4 linked regions of the Homo sapiens genome follow. The protein of the gene in region 1 interacts with the protein of each later gene in a pairwise test. Each region holds a gene or a part of one and is shown in the gene's direction. Other genes may lie near its edges. The genes, in order: STAP1, GRIPAP1, MET and GAB1.

Region 1 (7,028 bases):
TACCATTGGCATCGCAGTTCTTACAAATGGGAAAATTTCTCATTTTTTCTGGGACCGTTTGAAAATAAGAGAGAGTGTGGGTGGGCCGGGAGCGGTGGCTCATGCATGTAATCCCAGCACTCTGGGAGGCCCAGGTGGGCGGATCACGAGGTCAGGAAATGGAGACCAACCTGTTCAACATGGCGAAACCCCGTCTCTACTAAAAATACAAAAATTAGCAGGGCATGGTGGCACGCACCTGTGGTCCCAGCTACTCGGGAGGCTGAGGCAGGAGAATCACTTGAACCTGGGAGTCAGAGGTTGCAGTGATCCGAGATCGCGCCACTGCACTCCAGCCTGGCAATAGAGCGAGACTCTGTCAAAAAAAAAAAAAAAAAAAAAAAGAAAGAAAGAGAGAAAGAAAGAAAAGAAAAAGAAAGAAAATAAGAGATAGTTTGGGCAACGTCTCATAATTTCTTCAATCTGTGATGTGCTAAAGTAAAAAAAAAAAACAGTGTGTGTGGGCCGGGCCCGGTCCCAGCTATTCGGAAGGCTGAGGCAGGAGAATCGCTTGAATCTGGGAGGCGGAGGTTGCAGTGAGTCAAGATCGTGCCACTGCACTCCAGCCTGGGTGACAGAGCGAAACTCCGTCTCAAAAAAAAAGGAAATTTTTTAGGGCTGTCTAAGTTGTGCTCACACACAGTTCTCTATGGCAGTAATCTCCAAATTTTAAAATAACACACTCCTTTCAGGAAAACATTTTGAGCACAGATCCCTAATATAAGAATATTAATTCAGCCGGGCGTGGTGGCTCACGCCTGTAATCCCAGCACTTTGGGAGGCCGAGGCGGGCGGATCACGAGGTCAGAAGATTGAGACCATCCTGGCTAACAAGGTGAAACCCTGTCTCTACTAAAAAAAAAAAAAAAAAAAAATTAGCCGGGCGAGGTGGTGGGCGCCTGTAGTCCCAACTACTCAGGAGGCTGAAGCAGGAGAATGGCGTGAACCCAGGAGGCGGAGCTTGCAGGGAGCGGAGATTGCGCCATTGCACTCCAACCTGGGCAACAGAGGGAGACTCCATCTCAAAAACAACAAAAAAAGAATATTAATTCATTTGGAAATTATAAATATATATATTCCCGTACTATTAATCCATGTAAATTATTTGATATATAAAAAATGAATTAAGAAATATGAAATAAAATATAATTAAATATTCTAAAATTTTCTCTCCCAATGGATCATCTTGCACACCTTTGGAATTTATGCATCCCATTTTGGAGACCACTATACAACATTCTTCCTTAGGTAAATGTACTTTACTTGCGCACAAAAACAAAGAATGAGAGCTTTTTATTGGGGACAGAGGAAGAGAAACTTAACTGGAGCTTGCATTGTAATTCATTTTTGCTAGTTAATTCATTTTTGCTAGTTGTATTAATGAGAAAAGAGCACTGGGAAGTCAAGAGATAAAAGTATCAGTCCAATTCTAGAATTTGGGCGATTCCTTCACATTTTTAAATCTGTTCTCTCCTTTCTAAAAAGAATAATTACTCTCTTGCATAGCTGAATAGGTTGCTCCAATGACTAAGTGGACTATATAATAATGAATGCAACCTTTTGAGGTATAACATATAATGGATCCCATTCTAGGCTCTTAGTGTTCTGTCACTGTGATCCTTACAGTAACTCTTCTGGGTAGAAATTATTTTATTCACTTCACAAATGAGTGAGTAGGTGAGGCATGCTGGCTCATCCCTGTAATCCCAGCACTTATGGAGGCCAAGGCAGGAGGATTGCTTGAGGCCAGGAGTTGGAGATCAGCCTAGGCAATATAGCGAAACCCCATTTCTACAAAATCAAAAAATTAGCCAGGCGTGGTGGCACACCCTGTATTCTCAGGTACTCGGGAGGCTGAAGTGGGAGGATCACTTGAACCCAGGAGTTCGAGGCTGCAGTGAGCTATGATTGCATCACTGCACCCCAGCCTGAGCAACAGAGCGAGACCCTGTCTCTCTAAAACAACAACTCCAAATAAACAAATGAGTGAGTTCTGGCCACAGAGGTTATTCAAGGTTCCTCTTCCATTAAGGAGGCTAGCTTGGATTTGATTGTGATGCACTTGACCATGCTGCTTCTCAAACTCAAATTCTACCATTTGATTGTAGGTTTCCTAGTTAAGCTAGTGATAAATTCAGAAGTCTTATTTCAGCCTCTTTTCTTACATCAATGATTTCACACAAACGATTGTTAAAAAAAAAAAAAAAGAAATTTGTGCTTCATTCCAAAGATATGTCCTTCCAAATTAATTTTTTTAATTTTTAAGTATTTCTCTAGATATGAATAGGTACCTAGATGTTGTTTATTGAGATTGATATTTATAAATGACTCAGATTCTATGTGTATTTATTACATCTTATCGAAATGAAATCAAGATTGTGACCTGTAAGTCTCTGCATACTGAATATAAGTTTGGTCTGTCCTTAGGTTTGCAGCTGTGGTTGCAGTTCACATGGTCTAATGCTATTTGTAACCTTACTTTTCCTCCAGGGCTGCCTTTGCTTTCAACTTAGTGCCTTTATACTTGCTTTTCCCCCCATTTAATAAATCCTTAATCCTTTCCACAAGTATATACGTTTGCTTACCTGTAAAACTCCCATTTTTCCCTATTTAACTTTACCCAATTCATATCATTCTTTTGAGACTGAACACCTCTACAATTTTTCTCGATAGTGCAATGGAGGTCTGCATGTACATACAGAGGGAATTCAATAAACCTTTACTGGCTATCAGTAATACTAGTTTTTATACCTTATGGCAGGGTAATACTGTAGTTATGAGGCTGATTAGGACGATGAACAGAGTGGTAGGCTTTGACTTCAGGGTTTTCTCTTGTATTTTTTTCCTCCAGGAATCATACAATCCTGGAGTTGGACTAGATCTTAGAAGCCATACTTTAGTAAAATTGCACAAATGACACTTTGGGAGCCTGAGGCGGGTGGATCACTTGAGGTCAGGAGTTCGAGACCAGCCTGGCCAACATGGTGAAACCCTGCCTCTACTAAAAATACAAAAATTAGCCAGGCATGGTGGCATGTGCCTGTAATCCCAGCTACTTGGGAGGCTGAGGTGGGAGAATGGCTTCAACCTGGGAGGCAGAGGTTTCAGTGAGCAGAGATCAAAATCACACCACTGCATTCCACCCTGGGTGACAGGAGACTCCATCTCAAAACAAACAAACAAACAAACTACACAGATGATAAAGTTCTCAGAACAATATGCATTTCTCTACATTCCCATCTCCTCCTGCACTGTTCCTCACCTGCTTCCCAGCTCCAAAAAACAGGAGAGCCTTGATTTACTCCTTTCATTGCAGAGGCTTACCATTAATGCAGGGTGGGGAAGCCTTAAAAAGAGTTGGTCGGATAAGCAAAGAAACAAAACAACTTGCAAGATAAATTTTAATTATTTTGTTATGTAATTATAGGTCAGATTGAGAAAGTACAAGTATTTTTTAACAGAGTGAAAAAAACTAGTCACTCCCATATGGTTTTTTACAGAATGGCTATCTGATCGCAGTGCTAGTATATATTAGCAACTTCTCAAGCCAGATTTCTAAATGGATTTTTAAACCTCTTTATTTAAGAAAACATGAAAGGGTGATTTTACATAGGAATGACAATGGGTTTCATTATTCTGGTTTAGAAAATATTTCCTCCTTCTCATACATATTACCATTGAAGGAGATCTATTTTAGAAATTTTTAGATACTGCTATCACACCCACACATACAAATCACCACATGGAAGAAGTATTATGTGGCTAATAAAAAATGCAAAGTTCTTGCCAATAATGTGAGTGTTGAGGCAATGCTCTTCTTTTTCTTTTCTTTTCTTTTTTTAAAGTGCCTGACATTTATGAAATACTTGCTATGTCCCAGGTCTTAGGTGCTTTACACACATACATTATTAGTCCATTCAATTATTCAACAACTCTATGGAGCAATAGCAGGAGGTGGTGTTGTGTTTATGGGGTACTCCTAGTTTTGGGTACTCCTATTTTTGGTTCCTTAAAGTAAACTCTCATATGGGAGACACAATAATAATTATTATTATTCAGTGTCTTTTGATATATTCACAAACTTATACAACCATCACCAGTATCTAATTCCACAACATTTTCATAATTTCAAAAAGAAGCTCCATGGGCAGTCATACCCACTTCTCTTCCCCCCTCAACCCAACTGCTTTTTTTTTTTTTTTTTTTTTTTTTTTTTTACGAGACAGAGTCTTTCTCTGTCGCCCAGTCTAGAGTGCAGTGGCGCGATCTCTGCTCACTGCAACCTTCGCTTCCTGGGTTCAAGAGATTCTCCTGTCTCAGCCTCCCAAGTAGCTGGGATTACAGGCGCCCGCCACTACTCCGGCTAATTTTCATATTTTTAGTAGATACAGGGTTTCACCACGTTGGCCAGACTGGCCTCGAACTCCTGACCTCAGGTGATCTTCCCGCCTCGGCCTCCCAAAGTACTGCGACGACAGGCATGAGCCACCGCGCCTGGCCCTCTTCCCTCTTTTTTACATTTTTTATATACTCTTTTATTAGAATTTTTCTTCTCCCAAGTTTGAAACCAGCCAGACACAGAAATCACACAAATGAAGATCAGTTAGTTACTTTTATTATTGACAAATTATCAATGTGCAGTTTAGATTTAAGGCCAAAACTGTGCTTATATTTTACTCCAGATTTGGGTAGCCTTGAGCTACATCAAGTCACTGACTCAGATTAAGAGCCACAAGCTGAACCTCTTGGAGGCCCTTTGCCACATGGCAGGGAACAGAGCAGTACACTCACTCTCTCCTGGTAGACTGAGCTGAGAGAGGACAGGAAGGGGCTGAGCTGAGCTTGCTGCCTCCCAAACACACCTATTAGATACTCAGTCCTACTCTCTGCAAAGGAAATAATTCACCCTGGCAGTACTGAGCAGAATAGATTCGAAAGTAGGTTGGACACGGTAGCTCATGCCTGTAATCCCCGCACTTTGGGAGGTTGAAATGGGCAGATCACTTGATGTCAGGTGTTAGAGACCAGCCTGCCCAACATGGTGAAACTCCGTCTCTACTAAAAATATAAAAATTAGCTGGGAATGATGGAACATGCCTGTAGTCCTAGCTACTGGGGAGGCTGAGGCAGGAGAATTTCTTGAACCCAGAGGGGAGCAGGTTGCAGTGAGCCAAGATCACGTCACTGCACTCTAGCCTGGGCCACAGAGTGAGTGAGACTTCCATCAAAAAATAAAATAAAATAAAAATAGAGTAGATTAATAGATTAGAAAGTATAAGAAAGTGGTAGAAAGACAGGTAAAGGGATACTGTTATAGCAATAACACTTTACATCCTATATAAAAAGAAGGAAAGAAAAGACTTTGGATGGGGTTGAAATTAAGATGTGTTTTCTTGTCATTAAACTGCTTGACTGAGACGTATCAGGTATATATTGGGCATCTGGATTTCAGACAAGAAAGAGAATCTCTTTGCCTAGTTTTATAACTACTTCTTTGAGGACCATTTATTGGCTGATCCTTCAATAATATGCCCTTTTGAATTGTTCTTTTCTATGGTAATTTGTTCCTTGGTTCAAGAGGCATCAGCAGGTTCATTGCATGTTATAACCAGTTCTCAACTGGGGGGAGGATAGAGTGAAAACACAGCAGGGCTTGAACAAAGATACCTTGTCCCAAATTCCAATGTGCCCCTGAGGTTGATTGCTGCAGTCACACTACCAATTTGTTCAAGTCTTACTGTATGTACCTCTCTTTGAAATATGACTTTTCTGCTCATCCTATAAAGAGGCTGAATCTATTTCTCTAATCTTTATTTTATGTTTCAAAATTGAACTTACAGCAAACAATAATTTTCTAGCCTTTGAATCTGGATTGGGTTATGTGACATGTGTTGGTAAATGTGACACAAGCAAAGTCTTAGAATAAGCTTGCCCATTGGGTTTTGCTCTCTCTTGTTCCTGGTAATCCTTCTGCCAGCATGTGTCAAGTCTAGGCTAGCTGACTGGATAAAAGAATGGATAGAGTGAGACTCCAGTTGTCCCTCCCTTCCCAGTCATTCCTGCCTTCCCAGCTAAGACCCTAGACAAGTAAGTGAGGCCACCTTAGACCATTCAGCCATAGCCAAGCAAGCCCAGATCAGAAAGGCCGTCAGCCAACCATAGAATGGTGAGAAATAGAAATCATTTGCTTATTTTAGTCCACTAAGTTATAGGGTGACTTGTTACATGGGAGAAGCTAACTCATATATTATCTTATTAGGCATGAAGACAAAGAAAGAAAAGAGTTCTACCAAGAGCATAAGAAAAAAATGGTGATTGTAGTTCAAAATGAATTTAATCTTGAGCTTCCTGGTAGCCAGGGAATTAAAAGCAAAATTGAGTTATAGAGTCGTCATTATTTGAGAAAATAAGCATATAAATTCTGAAGAGTCGACAAACATTTTACTGGTTAAAAAACATAAAGGATATGTTAATATTGAAGAGACACAAAATACCATAAGACAAAGTATCTTCACATGCACAATAAAAGAGAAAACCCTTTATATAACTTTCTTATATTAATCGCCAATATCATGATGGTTCAATAAGTTGTAAAACATCAGCTTATCAAACCATAAAGGAAGGAATGATTAACATGTTTATTAAAATAACAGGAATTTTTTTAAAACACACTTTTGGGAAAAGCTGCATATGAAAGTAAATCTTTAGATGTGAAAGGATTTTATTTTTAAAACTTACTTGCCATTCTTTTGTAATATAGTCACTCTTCATATTTATTTAAATAAACTTAATTGAATGAAATGGGAGTTTAACTAGGTTATTTAAATATTTTAAACTTCAAAAGTCATATTTCTGTAGAATCTAGAGTAATATGAATGTATTAATAATTAAATATTCACCACATCAATAAGATTTGGATTTTAAAGTTCAGCTTTGATGGTGTTCAATTATCAATTTCTCACATTTTCTTGATCTGTCAATAATATATA
Region 2 (7,028 bases), on another chromosome or scaffold:
AAGGTCGCCTACTTGGATAAGGAGTTCAGCAAAGCTCAGAAGGTACCTCCCTCCACCCACCCATCCACCTACCCATCCACCCTTGCTTCTACCTATCTGACTCATTCATCCCTCCAGTGAGCACCTACAGTGAACCAGACCTAATGTTGCATGCTGTTTTCACGTAGTCATTTAAAGGATTCTCAATGGAATTCTCTTTAGTTGCTAATTTTACCTAATCCTGCTTAATTTAGTGATTAATTTTAATTTACTTTTAATTCATTTCTAATTTCAGTTACTCATTCTCATTCACTGACTTTTAATTAAATATTCAAATCTATCAGTAAATCTACCTCGAATCTGCCTCCCATCCTCTACTCACACTCCTGCCTTGTGCTCCTACTTCCCATCTCTGTCCTGGTCCAGTTGGGAAAATGAGAGCAAACCCACCTCTCAGATCCTCTAAAGATGAGATAGGATATAACCTATTGTGGCCCCTCAAGACATTCGAGGTGCTCCTTTGTCACTGCTCTGTCCCCATATCTAGCCATACCTAGCACAATGTTAATACATAATATGTGCTCAATAAATATTTGTTGGATGAACGAATACAGTATGCAGAAAATCCGACAGTCAGGAAGCTGCACTTCTCTTTGGTAGGATGCTGATTCCCCTAAGCTGGCAATGCTCTTGGCTGCCCAGTAGGGGAGCGACAGTTTCCACACTGCGTGGGAGGGACCCACAGAGACATGTATGGACAGATGTAGCAATGAAGCCACAGTTTCTGAGTCTGGAGATCCAGCCCATAAATGGTTAAATACCAGGGCATCTCCCTACCTCCCCTGTCCCCCCACCAGCCTCAAGAGCTTCCAAGAAAGGATGATTTATGTGTGCTGGGGCCCCAGGGCAAGACTTGCATTCATTCACTCACTCACACACTCATTCCATCATTCCTTTGGGCTCCAAATTGTCACACATGTTCTGTGGTTGAAGATGCTCCCATCCTGCAACCCCTGTCATCCTTGTCCTCCCAAAACGCTTGGCACAATTGTCTCCATATCCTAGTAAGGCAGTCCATCTCTGTTCACTTTAGCTCTCTTCCCACCCACCCCCACTTTAGGCACTGAGCAAGAGCAAGAAAGCTCAGGTAAGGGGATCCCTTGTGGGTGAGTGTGACTGGGAGATGTCTTGGTGGGCTATTTCTGTATGCTGATATTTCCTTGTACTGGCCTTTCTTTCTTTGTGTGCCTTTACATCTGCTACTACCTCACTGCCATGTGTTGCTGTATCTGTCCTTGTTTCCCTGTATTTGTCCTAACTCTGTGTCTCTTTCCTTCTCTCTCTTTCCATTCTTTTCTCTGAGTCTCTTTCTGTCTCTGTCTGTTTTCCTGTTCCTGTCTCTCTGACTCATTTCTCTTCCCAATCTTCTCTTTGTCTCTCCCCCTCCTGTTCCTGTCTCGGTGATTTCTCTTTTTTCTGCTTTCTCTCTCTAACTCCTTGTTTCTTCCACCCCATTCCTCTCTCTTCCTAACTCATTTCTTTTCCTGACCCCTCCTCTTCTCCCTGTTCTGTTCTCTCCCTGTTGATTTCTGTTTGTTCTTCTCTCCGTCTTTTTCACTCTCTCCCTCCCAATCCCTCTCCCCTTTTCTATCTCTCCCCCTTTCCCCATCTCTACTTCCTCTCTCCCCAATCATTATCTTCCTGTCTTTTCCTCCGCTCTCTTCCTCCCTGTATTCCCTTCTCTCTACCTTCCCATGTCTTTATCTTCCTTTCCCTGTCTCTCATTTTATCCCTCCCCATGTCTCTTTCTCCTATATCACCTCATTCTCTGTACCCTATGTCCTCTCCCACCCATGTCATTTTCTCCCTCTCTCTGTTTCTTTGCCCTACCTCCCTATCCTTTTTGCCCTTGCTGGAGTCCTGGCCCTTGTCTGCCACTGCAGGAAGTCGAGGTATTGCTGAGTGAAAATGAGATGCTGCAGGCAAAGCTGCACAGCCAGGAGGAGGACTTCCGTTTGCAGAACAGCACACTAATGGCCGAGTTCAGCAAGGTGCTGGTGCCTGGGATAGTCAAAGGGGAAATGAGGGGTAGGGGTCATCTGGGCTGAAACCTAACAGCGGCAGAGAGTGATTGGACAGGGTCTGGCCCTGGAGCACTGTCCGTGGTGCTGAAACAGGTCCTGGATTGCTGCTGGGGGGCAGTAATTTGACAGATGGGGCCGCTCACTCTGCTGGGATTAGAAGGCTTTGAGCCCTGAGGTCACCTGGTTCCTGGCCAAGTCACTCCTTTTATTTGAGCTTCAAGTCTCCATGTGTATAATGTGGGGTTGATGCTGTGGTGCTCCAAGGTGTTGGGGGGTTTTAGGCAGAGTTCTTATGCTTAATATAGGATGGAAAAGTGTTCGAGCTTCTTCCCTTTTCTCTTTCTTCTCTTCATCTGACATGAGCCTGGGGTTCTACCTCTTCCAGATAATTCATCCTGGAGCTACTAATTCTATCTCCCCATTGATTTTAGTGTCCTGTCTGTTTCTAAATCTACTGGGCAGTTGGAGACATTGTCTTTTGTTCCCTCATCTATCTTCTGTATCCACAGTTGATAATTGTCTATGTTTTTAGTGTGTTTTAAGGAAAAAAGTCTCATGGCAGCAAATTTTTTTGAGATGGAGTTTCACTCTCATTGTCCAGGCTGGAGTGCAATGGCATGATCTCAGCTCACTGCAACCTCTGCCTCCTGGGTTCAAGCGATTCTCCTGCCTCAGCCTCCCAAGTAGCTGGAAGTACAGGCATATGCCACCATGCCTGGCTAACTTTGTATTTTTAGTAGAGATGAGAGAAAATGACATGGGTGGGAGAGGACATTTAGTAGAGAAAATGACCATGTTGGTCAGGCTGGTCCTGAACTCCCGACTTCAGGTGATCCACCCGTCTTGGCCTCCCAAAGTGTTGGGATTAAAGGCGTGAGCCACCGCGCCCGGCCCAAAAATGGTATTTCTAAGGCTCCATCTGAGAATATAGTGCCTATGACCTTAAAAAAACAAAACCGAAAATAACCTTTAAGCAGGTACAATACCAGGAGAGGCAGTTGAGCAAGTAGTAGGTACCAGCAGGGACTCTGGAACCAGAAGGCCTAGATTAAAATCTTGGCTCTACCTTTTACTAACTGTAACCTTGAGGAAGTTACTTAACTTGCCTGGTTCTTGGTTCCCAAATGTTTAAAATGGAAGTCATGATAATAACAGTACCTGCCTCTTCACAGGGCTTTTGTGAGGATTAAATGAATAAATGTACGTAAATCACTTAAAACAGAGCCTTGCACATAGTATCAGCTATGGAAGCATTAGTTATAATATTATCCTTCTATTAACTCATCTTCCCTCTAAAATATTTGACTTTTTAAAAGTTTTATGGCCGGGCGTGGTGGCTCAGGCCTGTAATCCCAGCACTTTGGGAGGCCAAGGCAGGCAGATCATGAGGTCAGGAGATGGAGACCATCCTGGCTAACGTGGTAAAACCCCGTCTCTACTAAAAATACAAAAAATTAGCCGGGTGTGGTGGCACGTGCCTGTAGTCCCAGCTACTCGGGAGGCTGAGGCAGGAGAATCGCTTGAACCCGGGAGGCGGAGGTTGTAGTGAGCCAAGATTGCACCACTGCACTCCAGCCTGGGCGACAGAGCAAGACTCTGTCTCAATTTAAAAAAAAAAAGTTTTATATCCACCCTGTGGCCCTGCTTTGCCTTAGCCTCTACCACTTATCATCTGCTGTTTCTACAGCCGCCTCCCTGGTCTCTTCACTTCTAGTTTCTTCTACTTAGTTCACACCACAGAGGCTGTTCTGACCTGCAGATCTTATGACATCACTCCTTTACTTAATACATTCCAGTGCCCCAGTCCTGCTCCTAGTTCAGAGCCCCTGGTATTCACATAACTGCTGGCTTCACTGACTGACTCCTCACTGCTTCCTGCCTCCAGCCTCCATGGTATCATGATTCTTGCAGAGTGAGGCAGGGGCAGACATTCTTCCATAAATCCAGCTTGTTTCCCTGCATCTGCCCTGGGCCAGCACTGGGCTAGTCGTAGAGACTTCCTACATAGTCCCCTTCCTCCTCCAACTCCTCCCAGGAACTGGAAGTGCTCTCAGAGAGAGCTACGTTAAACCTGCCACCACCCCTTATTCATCAAGACATTTCAGCTTAATTGTTCCTTCGACAAATAGTTACTGAGTACCCACCACATGCTCTATGTTCTGGAAATACAGTTGTAAGCAGCACAGAATGATCTCCACTCTTGGGTAGCTTACATTCTGGGGGTGGGATGAGGAGAAAGATGATAACAGTAAACAAATAATACTAGTAGTGATAGCTGACATTTATATGGTGCTTACTGTGTGCCAAGTCCTGTTTGAAGTACTCTACATTATTCACTCATTTAATCTTTGAAATAAGCCTATGAGATATTAGTATCCCTATCTGACAGATGAGGAAAACTGAGTTCCAGGGAGATTAAGTAATTTGTCACACAGCTAGTAAATGGCAGAGCAGAAATTCACATTCAAGCAGTCTGGTTTCAGAATCTGTGCTTGTTACAAAAGAAAATTTTGATTAGTACTAGGTAAGAAAGAAATGAACAGTGCTGTGACAGAGAGTACTGGAATTTTCTGTGTTGAGGGATACTACTTTAAAGGCAACATCTGAGCAGAGCACTGAGGGATGCAAAGAAGCCAGTTAGGTGAAGAACTGGATGAGAGGATTGGTGTTCTGGGTAGAAAATATTGCAAGCAGGCCGGGTGCGGTGGCTCATGCCTGTAATCCCAGCACTTTGGGAGGCCGAGGCAGGTGGATCACCTGAGGTCAGGAGTTCAAGACCAGCCTGGCCAACATGGCGAAACCCCGTCTCTAATAAGAATACAAAAATTAGCCGGGCACGGTGGCGCATGCCTGTAGTCCCAGCTACTCAGGAGGCTGAGGCAGGAGAATCACTTGAACCCGGGTGGCGGAGGTTGCAGTGGGCTGAAATCGTGCCACTGTACTCCAGGCTGGGTGACAGAGCGAGACTCCATCTCAAAAAAAAAAAAAAAAAAAAAAGAAAGAAAATATTGCAGGCAATAAAATAAAAATTCTCTGTAGGCCTCGATATTCTCATCTGAAAATGGGGACAAGGAATTTTCTCAGGACTGCTTTGAGAAGTGTACTTCAGCCAGGAGTTGGGCAGGGGGCTGGCTTAGTTGTATTGGCATTGTATACCTCTCCAAGACTAACGGCTGGCAATGCAGGAGCTGTCATCAGTGTTGGCCCTGGAAATGCCCTGCGAGCTCTTTGTGGTGCTTAGGATGAGAGGGAGCTATCTCTGGGCCCAGGATCCAGCCCTCCACAGAAGAGGGGTTGCAGTGAGGCTGTCTGTAGCACTAACAACTTCCAGAGGAGCCTGAGGTCTTGGATTGCATCTCTGAGGTTGGGAGTAGGAAGAGGAAAATGGTTTTTGGTGTCCTCATACTTGGTATGCTCTTGGTATTCTCTGACTCTGCCACTTAAAAGATGTGTGAATTTGAACTTGTTTAACATCTCTGTGCCTCAATGTCCTTATTTGTAAAGTGGGAGGGCACCTATATCATAGGGTCATTATGGGAATTAAGTGAATTGTAAAGTACATGGACAAATGCTATGTAGGTTTCAGCAAATACTGCTCTGATTCTCTGCTTCTCTGCCCCTTCTCTTCCTCTGTTCAGCTCTGCAGCCAGATGGAACAGCTGGAGCAAGAGAACCAGCAACTGAAGGAGGGGGCTGCAGGAGCAGGGGTTGCCCAAGCTGGGCCCCTCGTGGATGGGGAGCTGCTGAGGCTACAGGCTGAAAACACAGCCTTGCAGAAGAACGTGGCAGGTGCATAGAGGCCCTCCTGGGGATGCGGAGACATTGGGGCTTGAGTAGGGCAAGGAAGGCCGTCATCCTCTCAGGGGAAGGAGAAGGGCTTCAGAAATAGGGTTGGCCCATGCCCTGTGTGGCTTTGGACAAGCCATTTCACCTCTCTGAGCCAAAGCCTTATCATCTACACAGTGCATGTAGTGATGTCTGTCACCCAGAAGATTGTAGTAGAGATAAAAGGTGATATCATTCTGCATTAGTTCAGTGTCTGGTACCTAGCAGATGTTACAGATTAGCAGCTTGAATGTCAAAAAGGAGATATTTGCGGCCGGGCGCGGTGGCTCACGCCTGTAATCCCAGCACTTTGGGAGGCTGAGGCGGGCGGATTGCGAGGTCAGCAGATCAAGACCATCCTGGCTAACATGGTGAAACCCCGTCTCTACTAGAAATACAGAAAATTGGCCGGGCACGGTGGCGGGCGCCTGTAGTCCCAGCTACTCTGGAGGCTGAGGCAGGAGAATGGTGTGAACCTGGGAGGTGGAGCTTGCAGTGAGCCGAGATCACACCACTGCACTCCAGCCTGGGCGACAGAGCGAGACTCCATCTCAAAAAAAAAAAGGAGATATTTGCTAAGTGAAAAAGTGAATGGAGTGTTGGGAAGATTCTGAGCCCAGATTGTAAGTGGGGTCTGGGATGAAAGCTGAAAGAAAGCTTGATAGAGTGTGGGAGCATGTGGTGTGTGGAACTTTGGAGAGCAGCTGGGACTTCTGTGGTGATGGATGCTGGTTCCATGACCAGGAGGGAGACTTAGTAGAATGTGAGTAGGAATTAGGAGGCTCTAGGAGGGATTCAGCTGTAAGTCAGTGGTAGCATATGGTGGGCATGGCCTTCAAGGGCTATGGGTGGGGCTTCAAGGATTGAGAATGGGATTTGTGAAACCAGCTTGGGCTAATTTAATAGTAAACAGAATCTTAGTGGTTGATAGGGCTTAAAATATTTGTGAGAGCCTGGGCACAGTGGCTCATACCTTGATTCCAGCACTCTGGGAGGCTGAGGCAGAAGGATCTCTTGAGGCTAGGAGTTTAAGACCAGCCTAGGCAACATAGCAGGAACTTGTGTGTACTAAAAATAAAATAATTAGGCCAGGCACGGTGTTTCACACCTGTAATCCTAGCACTTTGGGAGGCCAAGGTG
Region 3 (7,028 bases), on another chromosome or scaffold:
AGGCAGGCAGTATACTGCCACCAGTAAATATATTTGTGAGTTCTACTAAAGAGGAAAGGAGACCCCTTTTGGAGTTTTTTTGTTCTGTTTTGTTTTTGTTTTTTAGTTTTCTCATGTTTTATCCTAATGGGTTTTGAAAGCATGATCATTTAAAATACTGTTGGAATGGGCCCATCAGTGATGTGATCTTTCACCTGTGAAAAGACAAGGGCTACTTTTGTGGCTGTATCTCCCCTATCCAGACAGGTAGGAGACCCAGCCTCTGTGGCTTTATGCCGGACGCTCATTTCCTGCCCACAGAGTTTCTCTGCCCTTCAGGATAACTCAGAGTTTGCCAGCCATTGTTGGGTCTATCCAAGGGTGTGTAGTTCACAACTGCTTCCTTCCTTTTTCCCTAGAAGGGTAAAGGTTACCCCATAAGCTAAGGGGAAAATGCCCAGCCCAGAGAGAAAAGCTAAGCAGAGCGAGCCTCTTGGATCCTGAGGGTCTAGCAGAGGGCTTATAATATCTCTTCCTATTGCCAGTGCCCCAGTTGCGCAGCTCTCTGCGTCTTTTCTCAAATCATCACCCAATCCGTTTGCCTTTTATAGAAAGTGATGGTAATGATGTGTGTAGAGTGACAGACTTCAGTTTTTACATAGAAAGACGGGATGTAGGCAGTGGGATCAGGCCAACATCAGCCTTGGGCAGCGTTTTCAGTGGGGAAGCCTCCTCATTAGAAGAGCCGGCAGCAGCTGTGTGACTGCCTCAGGCTGAAGAGAGTCCTGGGAGGGTTGGATGTCTTGTTCTCTCCTACTGGATTTCTACCATAATAATAATAAACAGATTTATTTTTCTAGTAGTTCTCATTTGACTAGACATGGATGAGGTAAATTTTCAGGAAAGGCACAACAGTGTAATGGATTTTTATGGGTAAAATGGCTATCATAAAAGCTTTAAGCTAAAACTTTAAAGGGGTTTGATAACGAGGGTACATTAAGACTTTGGTTTGCAATTATTTACTTAGGAAGGATGGAAATGTTTGCAAGTTTGAATTTGGCTAAAAGCCCTTCTTAATTGTAAAAGAATCACTTTTAGATGTTCACAAGCTGAGCTTTAGCAAATACCTTTACTGGTTCTTGAGTTGCCTCTATCTTAGTTTTCCCACCATTGTACTTTACAGCACAATTTACAATATGTCCCCACCCCCAAAAGAGCATTTCCTTTCTCAATTGTCACAAAGCTGCTGAGAAGAAGCTTATTTTTAACTTGGAAATGTGTTTTGTTTTAATAGTTTTAGCCTGAGAGCAATTATCTTACACACTTTATAGGTGCCTAATGCGGTCTTAAATCATGACTGACCAAGGTTTATCAATAAATCCATTGATAACATACCAGAAATGAGTCTGCAATAACAAAATGAGTCTGTTATTTGCTTAACATCAACCATCAGGGGGAAAAATTTAATCCTAAAAATGAGATATAAAACAATACCAATGAAGATAATTAGGAAAAATTGTTACAATACTGATTTTGGGCCCTCTCTGGTTCCGTTTTTATCTATTTCTAAAAGAAACAACATAACACATGTATTAAATATTACATAATTTTTAAAAGGCTGAGTGTGTCAACTAACCAGCCTGGTATACATCAAATAGTGACCATATTTAAAGAACAAGGAAAAATCTTCAGTCATTAATAAATGTGAACTAATAGGTAAAAAGAAGTAGATTCACTTTTCATTTGTTAGTGCCTGGTGCATAGGAGGTGCTTTATTAAGAAATAATTAATGAAACCTGGGCAGCATAACAAGACCCCGTCTCTACAGAAATTTAAAAATTAGCTGGGTGAGGTGGCGCACACCTGTAGTCCTGTCTACTAGAGAGGCTGAGGCGGGAGGATTGCTTGAGCCCAGGAGTTTGAGGCTGCAGTGAGCTAGGACTATGCCACTGCACTGCAGACTGGGCAAGAGTGAGACCCCCATCTCTAAAAGTAAATAAGTAAATAATGAATGAATGAATGAATGAATGAATTATTGGCAGATATGTGTTCCAAAACCATCTATATGTTTCATATTATGCTAGCTGCTGAATGCAACTGGGCAAACACTGGATACCAAATGAGGTATTTTTACTGTGCAACTTTTGTCTCTGGGTGGGGAATACCATAGCAACCAGAATGTAGTGCACGCAGCCAGTGCACAGAGCAAGGCGTATAATGGCTGGACCTTGGCTTATAGAGCACATGAAGGAGTTTGATAAGAGCTCAGTCCGAAGGCTGATGAAGAGTTACAATCAGAGTTATGAGCAAGTAAAAGTCTGGGCCCAACGTGTTTCTACTCCTACCCTAAAGAGCCCTAGAAGATGAATTCACTTCAGAATGGCCCAAAAAGGGCCAGGTCCAATGGCTCATGCTTGTAATCCTAGCACTTTGGGAGGCCAAGGCAGGAGGATCACTTGAGCCCAGGAGTTTGAGACCAGCTGGGCAACGTAGTGAGACCCTGTCTCTAGAAAAAAAAAAAATAGCCAAGCATGGTGGCCCACGCCTGTGATCCCAGCTACTCAGGAGGCTAATGTGGGAGGATTGCTTGAGCTCAAGAGGTTGAGGCTGCAGTGAGCCATGATCACGCCACTGCACTCCAGCCTGAACAACAGAGCCAGACTCTGTCTGAAAAAGAAAAGAAAAGAAAGAAGGAAGAAAGGAAGGGAGGGAAAGAAAAAGAAAGAAAGAGAGAGAGAGAGAAAGAGAGAAAGAAAGAAAGAAAGAAAGAAAGAAAGAAAGAAAGAAAGAAAGAAAGAAAGAAAGAGAAAGAAAGAGAAGGAAGGAAGCAGAGAAAGGAAAGAAAGAAAGAAAGAAAGAAAGAAAGAAAGAAAGAAAGAAAGAAAGAAAGAAAGAAAAGAAAGAAAGAACGGAAGGACTCGAAAAGCCCCTTTATTCCTACCAAGCTGCATCTGCTCTTTGTCCCATCTTTGGATCTCCTGAAAACAACTTGTTTCATTAACATGTCATGTAGTTTTAATGTTTGTTCCAGATGCTCTGAAATTTGTGACCCTTTTCCCTTTAGTGAAAATTAAATTTTTACTAAATTGTGGGAAAATGAAAGAATTTCAGACTATTTAAGGATATACATTTTGTTTGTTCGTTTTCCATATATGTGAAAAATTATAATATATTGGGTTTTTTTAAAAGTTCTATGTTGTCCTTGTAGGTTTTCCCAAATAGTGCACCCCTTGAAGGAGGGACAAGGCTGACCATATGTGGCTGGGACTTTGGATTTCGGAGGAATAATAAATTTGATTTAAAGAAAACTAGAGTTCTCCTTGGAAATGAGAGCTGCACCTTGACTTTAAGTGAGAGCACGATGAATACGTAAGGATCTTAAAATGCTTTGCTGGGGTGTGCTTGGAAAATAGGTTTTGTTTTTGAATGAATATTTCTTTTAAAATTGCTCAAGAAGCTCATCTCTTGAATTAAAAAGGGTCTTGGCCTGTCACATGCCTTGTGGGTCTGTTCTGTTTTGTTCTTGTAATCCCATTTACTCATTGGATTTGAAGAGAGAGAAAGGTGACATGGCCTAGGTGAAGAGAAGAGGCCAGAAATGGGAGTTTCTCAACCATTTATGCGACAAGTCTTCAGGTGTTGTCTGAGTAGATTTGCAAGAGTAGCACTAGTTGGGATCACTTCATCCTTGGAGTCTTCAAATGTAGAGTCTCCAAAGGCTTTTTCTACAGAAATCAGTAAACAGCTCAGCATGGATCCTCTCTTTTAAATTCACTTTCTAAACCTCAGAAATGTAGTGAGGCAGCTGAATCACGTGTTTGAGACTTTTTTAGATGAGTTAAAATTTATATTCAGCTTATATTTACTGGCACTGCAATATATGGGCTGTATCTCACTGAACCATCCCCACGGTCCTGGGAGGGAGCAGTATCATTCCTATAATATAAAAGAGGTACCTGAAGTTCAGAGAGATGAAGTGTGGCTTCACAGAGGTAATCCAGAGAGTAAGAGCTGAACAAGCCTTCAGCTCAGCTCTGATCATCTTCTGATCCAAGACCCGTGCTAGTTCTACTGTATTCTACATGTACCCTTCTACAAGCTTTGAATTCCATAATCATCAGAGAATCCAGAAATTATTCATTATCACATAATAACAACACTCAAATATTTAAAGTTTTATGGTTGAATCTTTATGATTGAACCCATTCTATCAGGTGGTTATTTTATATCTAATAGAATTCATTTCAGGGTTACACAAAGGTCCGAATCTATCCATTTTACTGAGACCAAAACACTAATGAAGGTAATATTTGTTAGCTGAATGGCAAAACAAATTTTTTCTAGAAATCTCCCTTGTAAAATCTCCAAAACTCTTAATCATTGCATATAAATCAGGACCTGTAAAAGTAAAGCATAATTCATTCTCTCCTTTAAAAAGTTATTTAATAAATCAAATTGTATTTAAATTTTCTCAGAACTATATGATTATTCATTCAGAAATAATTCTATGGAAAGCCATCACAATTTCATTATCATTTAAGTAATTTAAATAAGCATGTACAAGTATAACCACAGAAATGTACCTGTTGACATACTTTAATGAAGAGATTGGCCTATTTGTAGTTAGCCCATTGTTTCATATGCATCTGAAGTGGACCAAAGATTATCCCCAAATATTAATATTATCCAAACTTAGATTATTATGCACTATTCAACTGGTGAGGTCTTTATGGATAAGGTCTGATATTTCCTGTTTGTCTGTATAAGTGCTATAGTACCATTAATGTAAAGTTTAGTATAAGCAGGGTGCAGTGGCTTACGCCTGTGATCCCAGCACTTTGGCAGACCAAGGCAGGAGGATCACCTGAGCCCAGGAATTCAAGACCAGCCTGGGCAACGTAGTGAGACTCCATCTCTACCAAAAAAAAAAAAAAATTTTTTTTTAATTAACCAGATGCCGTGGCATGCACCTCTAGTTCCAACTCCTGAGTCCAGAGGATCCCTTGAGCCCAGGAGTTCAAGGCTGCAGTGAGCTATGACTATGCCACTGCCCTCCAGCCTGGGTGACAGAGCAAGATCCTGTCTCTTTTTACATAAAAATAAAAGTTAAGTTTATCATAGTATAGAAATAGGATTATATAATTTTTGGCCTTAATGCTTATCTTGAAACTCTGCTTGCTATTCAAAGCAGTCAGCTCACCATTTAGAGTTAATGTCACTTCCTATAAAACAACCTAACCAGAAAATTCCTTGGATTTGTCATGTATTAAACTTTGGGTTTTTTTTCCAGATTGAAATGCACAGTTGGTCCTGCCATGAATAAGCATTTCAATATGTCCATAATTATTTCAAATGGCCACGGGACAACACAATACAGTACATTCTCCTATGTGGTAAGGAAGATTCTATCCTATCATGTTTGATTTTTACTTAATCTATTTAAATTATAAGATGAACAAGTTACTTTGTTTTGTTTTTATCTCCCCTCCAGGATCCTGTAATAACAAGTATTTCGCCGAAATACGGTCCTATGGCTGGTGGCACTTTACTTACTTTAACTGGAAATTACCTAAACAGTGGGAATTCTAGACACATTTCAATTGGTGGAAAAACATGTACTTTAAAAAGGTGTTGTAAATTTATTTTTTGTTGCATCTGTCAATTTGAATTAATATCTGTACCTTAAAAATTAAGCAGATTGTTTTGTGTGTGTGTGTGGAGAAGAAAAATCAAGATGTTTATTTGTTTACTCTCCTACTGACAAAACTTCCTCCTTCCAAAATTCATCTACTCCTTTTGCTGATTTTTCTTCCTTTCTCTTGTTTTTTAGCAATCCTACTTTTCAGTTTTGTCTTCCCATCCACCCTCTTTATTGTTATAGCTTAGGATCTTAGCTATACTATGAGCTGTGAGAGTCTGGTCATTGATAATAATTTAAAATAAACATTTTCATCAAGATTTGTAATTAGACTAAGTCACTCTGGGGAAGGAAGAAATGGGGAAAATTGGGTCTGGAAGACAGTTATGTTTCTGCTTCTTAGAGTTGGAAGAGCTCAGTTTAATCAAGTACCAAAAGTACTTTAAAGGTTTTTTTTTCAAATCTCAAATGTTTTCCAGTCAAGGATAGCTTGTCCACAACAAAGGTAAGTTTGAGATCCAGTCAGATTAAACAGCCTACACTAGAAAAGGCTTCCACTCAGGAAATTCCCACTTAGGAACCATTGAGTTATATCCTTTTGATTTGTGGATATAATTCTAAAATATGTGTATCTCTAATAGCTAAAATTCACTTCCTTAATTTTTTTTGTTCAGTGTGTCAAACAGTATTCTTGAATGTTATACCCCAGCCCAAACCATTTCAACTGAGTTTGCTGTTAAATTGAAAATTGACTTAGCCAACCGAGAGACAAGCATCTTCAGTTACCGTGAAGATCCCATTGTCTATGAAATTCATCCAACCAAATCTTTTATTAGGTAAGTAGAAGCTTCTGATGGGTATAAGAAAACAATGAATACAAGGATGATTTTGCTGTAGAATAGTCAAGAGGAATTGCAGTTTTATCTCTGGCTTTGATGCTGTTATGTTGCTTTTGAAGGCTTCTTTCCAATTCAGGAGAGAAAACTATATTCAGGTTCTGAGTGTAGTTTGACTTATCAATGCTAGTTCATTCCAAGAAGTATCTTATCCTGTTCTATTACATTTAAACAGAGTATAGCAAAATAGTTTAATGTGGCATTGTAGTATACATGCACTTACATTATGTACATATCAATTCTATACTAACCTTAGTGCCCAGAAGTGGAATTACCTTTTTTCTTCCATTCTCTAGATATGTTTTTGTCCTGCCTGCTTTACACACAGCTTTTCTTTATGCCAGACTCTCTTTGAATTGATATCTCATTGGACCCAGTTCAATCTGCCTTGTTTCCGTTAATTCTATCAGTCTAGCAACAATAGTTAAGTTCGGTTTTCTTTGTATTTTTTTCAGAGGTGAAATATTTATTTTGTGTAATTCGGTGAATAAAATACAAATGCATTTCTTAAGCTT
Region 4 (7,028 bases), about 76 Mb from region 1:
CAATCTTAGTGTGAACCAAGTTTAACTTTTGAAACTACGTTTAGCTTGCTCTAAGCTAGGCTTTAATCAGTTTTTTAAATATTACTTATTTTCTTTCTATCCTAAAAGGTTGTTTAACTTTTTAAGCTATGTCCTCTTGAAAGCAAATATTTAGGCTTCCGTAGATGTTCAACAGTACGAGTGGTATGTCTGGTGAATGTCTGACCGTTGATTTTGTTGTCTAATACTTTCAGAATCTCTTTGGCAGTAACAGTCTTGATGGAGGAAGCAGCCCTATGATCAAGCCCAAAGGAGACAAACAGGTGGAATACTTAGATCTCGACTTAGATTCTGGGAAATCCACACCACCACGTAAGGTGAGTGACATGTGACATGTCTCTTCTTTGTATACAGTTAGTTCACACTTCAAACCTGAAGAATTATTTCCTTTGGGATAATTTTATTAAGTTATGTTTAATATAAATTTAGTCTGGTCTGCTACTTGATGCTATCTCATAAAACAAAAATAACATAGTTATGGAGACTGATTATTTTTTCCTTTCTGATGGTTAGAAATTTTATACTTTCTACTTTTTTAGTGGTTACCATTGAAATAGTTATTTAACAAATTCTTTTTTTTTTTTTTTTTTTTTTTTTTTGAGACAGAGTCTTGCTCTGTTGCCCAGGCTGGAGTGCAGTAGTGTGATCTTGGCTCACTGCAACCTCCGCTTCCCAGGTCCAAATGATTCTCCTGCCTCAGCCTCCCAAATAGCTGGGATTACAGATGCGCGCCACCACTCCTGGCTAATTTTTGTATTTTTAGTAGAGACACGGTTTCACCATGTTGGCCAGAATGGTCTTGAACTCCTGACCTCAAGTGATCCACCCACCTCAGCCCTCCAAAAGTGCTGGGATTACAGGCAGGAGCCACTGCATCTGGCTGTTATTTAATGAATTCTAAAGTTAACCAGTCTAGTGTCTTTACTCTCCTTAAAATGCTCAAATTCTGTGCTATCTTTGTCCAAAATTTTAATGTTGTCTTTTTGTTAAGCCCACTAATTAGACAGTATTATTACTGCTCTTATTATATAACAATGTTTATTTACATTTTCCTACATGTTGACCAGCTTCTTTGTCATTCCTTCCTATTTCTCAGACCTTCCTTCTGCAATAATTTTCCCTCCACCTGAAATATACCCTTTAGAAGTGCCTTTAGTGGAGGTCATTGGTAGTAATTTTTTTCAGTTTTTGTATAACTTAAATGTCTTTATTTTGCCTTCACTCTTGGAAACACAGTTTTCTTGAGTTTACAGTTCTTGATCAACAATAATTTTCTCTCAGCCCATGGAAGATACTATCCCACTACTGTCTTGCTTCTATTCCTATGGAAAAATTGCTGTCAGTCTAATTGTAATTCCCTTGTAGATAATGTCTTTTCTGACTGGATGAGTTTAAGGTCATTTCTGTATCTTTGGTATTCTACAGGTTCACTACAATACGTCTAGACATAGATTCCTTTTTATTTATCTTGCTTAGAAGTGCTGCCTTCTTTTTGGATTCATATTTTTTATCAATTCTGGGAAAGTCTCAGTCACTATTCAAATATTGCTTTTCCATTTCTAAAATGAAATTCTGTTTGGGTCTTTATCAAATATGTCTGGCCAATTTACTGGCTCCTTTTTCAATATCTGAAGTCCTTGGAGGTCTGAATCTGTGTATATTGTTTCTCCTATCTCACACTCTCTACAGTTTGTTTCTTTGTGTGTTTTATATATTTTTATTGCAACCTCATTTTGTTGAACATATCTTCTGAGGACCTAAATTTCTTCTATAAACTATTTGTATTTGCTTCTGCTAGGAACCAGGAGGTGCTACCATCCTAGGACCACATCAGTTCCCTTCAGGGGTCCCTAGCTTGATGAGATATTCTCAGTTTCAGCATCACCTCCAATGCAGGGCCTCCTGATTGCATTTTTGAGATTGACATTCATCCTAAAGCCAACACCACGTTTACCATTTAGAAGCTCACCACTCCCTCTACTTCTCTTATACCTTAGACATTTCACTTTCTAGTGAGCGCAGCAGTGCATTGATAATTTTATTTAAATATCTATATCTTGTTGAATTTTAGGAATGAAAAGGCATCAGCTTATGTAGTTTGTCATTCTTGAAGTATAACTTTTCCAAAAACATTTCTTGTTAGCTCTCAAAGTAAACATTGATTCATGTTCTCAGAGGTTGAGAGACAGTCAAGCTTAAGTTGACAGGAGAATCAGGTTGTCTATGTTAAGATGAAACAGGCATCTGCTGTCCCTATTTTTTATGAATTTCATCTGTCATGGAAGCATTAGTTTGAATTCTTTTTTTTTTTTTTTTTTTTTTTTTGGACGGAGTCTTGCTCTGTTGCCCAGGCTGCAGTGCAGTGGCACGATCTTGGCTCACTGCAACCTCTGCCACCCGGGTTCAAGCCATTCTCCTGCCTCAGCCTCCCAAGTAGCTGGGATTACAGGCGCGTGCCACCATGTCAGGCTAATTTTTGTATTTTTAGTAGAGATGGGATTTCAGCATCTTGGCCAGGCTGGTCTTGAACTCCTGACCTCGTGATCCACCCATCTTGGCTTCCCAAAGTGCTGGGATTATAGGCGTGAGCCACTGTGCCCAGCTTTGAATTCTTAAATATAATAATTTTAAATTTAAGGCAAAAATAGTATATAGTTAGGAGAGAGACATTTTTAAGTTGAGGTAGTTGATGTTATTTTTTGTGTATGACCCAGAAAAATTTTAAGAGTATTCATGGCCGGGCATGGTGGCTCACGCCTGTAATCCCAGCACTTTGGGAGGCCAAGGCGGATGGATCTTGAGGTGAGGAGTTTGAGACCAGCCTGACCAATATGCTGAAACCACATCTCTACTAAAAATACAAAATTAGCCAGGCGTGGTGGCACATGCCTGTAATCCCAGCTACTCAGGAGGCTGAGACAGGAGAATTGCTTGAACCCAGGAGGCGGAGGTTGCAGTGAGCTGAGATCGCACCACTGCACTCCATCCTGGGCAACAAGAGCAAAACTCCTTCTCAAAAAAAAAAAGTATTCACAGTGGATGTGTTTTGTGTTTTAAGACTGAGTTGTACTCAGGAACACTCCTTTATATGTTGGACTTTTTGTTTTTTCTTTGTGTTTTAGCAAAAGAGCAGTGGCTCAGGCAGCAGTGTAGCAGATGAGAGAGTGGATTATGTTGTTGTTGACCAACAGAAGACCTTGGCTCTAAAGAGTACCCGGGAAGCCTGGACAGATGGGAGACAGTCCACAGAATCAGAAACGCCAGCGAAGAGTGTGAAATGAAAATATTGCCTTGCCATTTCTGAACAAAAGAAAACTGAATTGTAAAGATAAATCCCTTTTGAAGAATGACTTGACACTTCCACTCTAGGTAGATCCTCAAATGAGTAGAGTTGAAGTCAAAGGACCTTTCTGACATAATCAAGCAATTTAGACTTAAGTGGTGCTTTGTGGTATCTGAACAATTCATAACATGTAAATAATGTGGGAAAATAGTATTGTTTAGCTCCCAGAGAAACATTTGTTCCACAGTTAACACACTCGTAGTATTACTGTATTTATGCACTTTTTCATCTAAAACATTGTTCTGGGTTTTCCCAATGTACCTTACCATAATTCCTTTGGGAGTTCTTGTTTTTTGTCACACTACTTTATATAACAATACTAAGTCAACTAAGCTACTTTTAGATTTGGAAATTGCTGTTTACAGTCTAACAACATTAAAATGAGAGGTAGATTCACAAGTTAGCTTTCTACCTGAAGCTTCAGGTGATAACCATTAGCTTATACTTGGACTCATCATTTGTTGCCTTCCAAAATGCTGAGGATAATGTATGTACTGGTGTCAGGACCTAGTTCTCTGGTTAATGTACATTTAGTTTTTAATGGTGGAACTTTGTTATATTTTGTTAATTACAGTGTTTTTGGTTCATTGAGTGAAGATTCTGCCGGGTGGGATCTTGCACCTTTGAAAGACTGAATAATTACACTACCAAGTAAGCCTGCAAATCATTGATGGCATGCAGTGATGATGTGCTCTTACACTTGTTAACATGTATTAAGTGTTATTTGCAAAAGGTAGATTATGTAACCAATCAGGTACGTACCAGGCAGTGATGTGCTAATACACTGATCAGGTTTAGACAATGAGCTTTGGTTGTGTTCTTGTTAGTCCTAATATTGGTTTTCAGTTTGGAATTAATAAAGCAGTTGACATTCACTGTTAGTTACAGCAACATACTGTGATTTTTAATTAGATAGTAATTCAGATTTATTACTCTATGAAATTCTGTCTTTTGACACCATAGTGCCCTTTCTATGATTTTTTTTACTTAATATTCTTCTTGGCCTTATATTTAATTCCCTATGCAATTAATATTTTATATCTGCATTTTTTTAAAAAAAATAGATGTTATATAAGTGATTCTCGTATGTAGCACCTGTTGCTTTTCCACTGAAAGAATTACGGATTTTGTACTGTGATTTATATTCACTGCCCCAATTCAAGAAATATTGGAGCCTTGCTACAATGTGAAATGTTATAGTCATGGACTCCTTCCAACCAGATTTCTGAAAACACCAGAGGGATGGTATAATTCTGTCTCACCTATAACATGGTCCTGTGACATAGATATTAAGACCACAAGTTGTAGTGAGGCTACAATTATATTCGTCTGTCTTGGCTTTGCAACATAATTTAGAAAGCACGTATAGTTGTTTTTTAACCAAGTTACATACAATCTCATGTACTGATTTGAGACTTATAACAATTTTTGGAGGGGGCATAGAGAAAGGAGTGCCCACAGTTGAGGCATGACCCCCTCCATTCAGACCTCTAACTGTTGCCTGAGTACACAGATGTGCCCTGATTTCTGGCCCATTGGCCATAGTACTGTGCCTAATCAATGTAATAGGTTTATTTTCCCAATCCTCAAACTAAAAATGTTCATAACAAGATGAATTGTAGACTAGTAACATTTGATGCTTTTAAATATTTGCTTCTTTTTAAACAAAAACTAAAACCCAGAAGTGAATTTTTAGGTGGATTTTTAAATAAAAAAGATTGATTGAGTTTGGTGTGCAAGCTGTTTTATAATGAAACAACAAAATGAAATCTAAAATCCTGAAATGTGCCTAAACTATCAAAACACACGATACAGCTAATGTGTAAAGATGCTAAATTCTGTTACTTGGAGGATGAATATATTTAAGATTTAAAACACAATAATAAATACATGATTAATTCAAAAATAAAAATCTTTACAGCTGCCTATCAAGGGTCTAAAGCACTTAATGAATGTTTTTAGTCTAACTTATCATTAACTTTTTACAAGTCACCATATTTGAAGATCTGTAGCACTCTGATTTTCAGAAAATTTTTCATTCTGAATAATTTAAAAATGGTGATGTATTAGAAAGGCAGTTTGCTTTAGAAAACTAAATCACATTGAACATTGTATTAGAGAATTAAATTAAAAGTTTCTTACAGAGCAGTATTTTCCAAACATTTTTAGCACTAGAATCTTTTTAGATGAAATTTTATGTATAACCCCAATACATAAAGCCTGAAAACTCAATTTTATCAATATAAATGTATTTTGGGTTCACATTTATGCTTATTCATTTTGGCTCATTACTAAGCATAATAAGATTCTGAGTTATTTCTGAATAACACAAATGTGGAGTTATACATAGTTGATGAAACCAGCAGCCAATTTATAGCTATGCCCTGTTTTATTTGTATACTATCAAGAAAATTTTGATTCACACAAATGTAAGCAAAAATAATAGGTTTTAAACATACATCTCAGGAAATTCTTTAATTAGAGATAGCTAAAGTTATTCAAGGTCTATACAAAAATAAGTTATCCTGGTAGTGGAAGTTAATACATAAGCAGTCTCCAGTGTGGTAAAGTAGGGTATGTAACACATCAGAATGTGCGTTTTTATTAGGTTTTAAAATATGCACGTATAAAAACTAAATTTGAATCAAACCCTTTTAACTCACCTCCAAGAAGCTAGACTTTGGCCAGGAATGGGCTAAAAACCACTGGTTAACGATGTGACAGTTATGATCTTGGAGATTGGAAATCTTTCTTCCACATTAGAGTTCTTTACCTTAATTCCTTATTCTGAAAAATTGTAAGATTTTATGAAGGTTTGAATACTGAAGCACAGTTCTGCTTTCAAAAATTAAAATTCAAACTTGAAAAAGCTGTTTAACCCATGGAAGATATCATTTAGTAAGATGTAAAAGATTTTTTAAATCTACACTTCAGTTTATACATCTTTATCATTATCAATACTATATAAGTTACTGTGAGCATTTTAGAGAATTCCATAAAGGTACTATGAGTGTGTCTGTATGTGTGTGTATATATAGCATTGTATTTAATCATAGACTAAATTTAATTTGATATAGAAATACTACTTTACTTGTACATTAAGGTCATAATTTCTGCTGGACTCTTTTATATTTAATTAATGGGGATTATAGTCTTCCTTCATAAATGCATTTAAACCTGAAATTGAACACCAGTGTTTTTCTTTTTCTACTTATGGGAAGTTGTCTGCTTCCCCCTTTAGAGAAAACAGTATTTTTATATTTTGTTAAAATATTAACTACTTTATGCCTACACACTATGCTGTAGATACTGATCATAATTCTTGGGTGTTCACAAACACTCCTAGTGCCTCTTTTTTGGCCCGTTGAAAGTGTTGGTATTACTACTTTCACTACAGAGCCTTTGGCCCTCTAATAATGCTGAGGTGGGCTGATCCTTCCCATTTCTGTCTTCGGGTCATTCTGGTAGGTCTTCTCCTCCACTGTCAAGTAAGCAATCAGGTCCGTGACAGGGATTGGACATATGAACAAATTAAGTGGATACACACAGTGAGAAAGATACATGCATTCTATGGTAACAACTACTGTCAATAACATCTGATGTTACATGCACATTTATATATATATAATTTTAAAAACTGAACTAT

Evidence for each region.
Region 2: the proteins of STAP1 (region 1) and GRIPAP1 interact in binary tests that used the Homo sapiens proteins (3 or more experiments, as listed by UniProt).
Region 3: the proteins of STAP1 (region 1) and MET interact in binary tests that used the Homo sapiens proteins (3 or more experiments, as listed by UniProt).
Region 4: the proteins of STAP1 (region 1) and GAB1 interact in binary tests that used the Homo sapiens proteins (3 or more experiments, as listed by UniProt).

The regions. Positions count from the first base shown.
Region 1 is NC_000004.12:67,561,709-67,568,736, forward strand, and holds part of STAP1 (signal-transducing adaptor protein 1), read left to right. Parts: intron 1-7,028. UniProt on the Homo sapiens protein: In BCR signaling, appears to function as a docking protein acting downstream of TEC and participates in a positive feedback loop by increasing the activity of TEC.
Region 2 is NC_000023.11:48,992,252-48,999,279, reverse strand, and holds part of GRIPAP1 (GRIP1-associated protein 1), read left to right. Parts: coding exon 1-42; intron 43-1,099; coding exon 1,100-1,126; intron 1,127-1,922; coding exon 1,923-2,030; intron 2,031-5,701; coding exon 5,702-5,852; intron 5,853-7,028. UniProt on the Homo sapiens protein: Regulates the endosomal recycling back to the neuronal plasma membrane, possibly by connecting early and late recycling endosomal domains and promoting segregation of recycling endosomes from early endosomal membranes.
Region 3 is NC_000007.14:116,752,168-116,759,195, forward strand, and holds part of MET (hepatocyte growth factor receptor isoform b preproprotein), read left to right. Parts: intron 1-3,187; coding exon 3,188-3,348; intron 3,349-5,269; coding exon 5,270-5,372; intron 5,373-5,470; coding exon 5,471-5,607; intron 5,608-6,291; coding exon 6,292-6,453; intron 6,454-7,028. UniProt on the Homo sapiens protein: Receptor tyrosine kinase that transduces signals from the extracellular matrix into the cytoplasm by binding to hepatocyte growth factor/HGF ligand. Regulates many physiological processes including proliferation, scattering, morphogenesis and survival.
Region 4 is NC_000004.12:143,465,870-143,472,897, forward strand, and holds part of GAB1 (GRB2-associated-binding protein 1), read left to right. Parts: intron 1-233; coding exon 234-356; intron 357-3,161; coding exon 3,162-3,320; 3' UTR 3,321-7,028. UniProt on the Homo sapiens protein: Adapter protein that plays a role in intracellular signaling cascades triggered by activated receptor-type kinases. Plays a role in FGFR1 signaling. Probably involved in signaling by the epidermal growth factor receptor (EGFR) and the insulin receptor (INSR).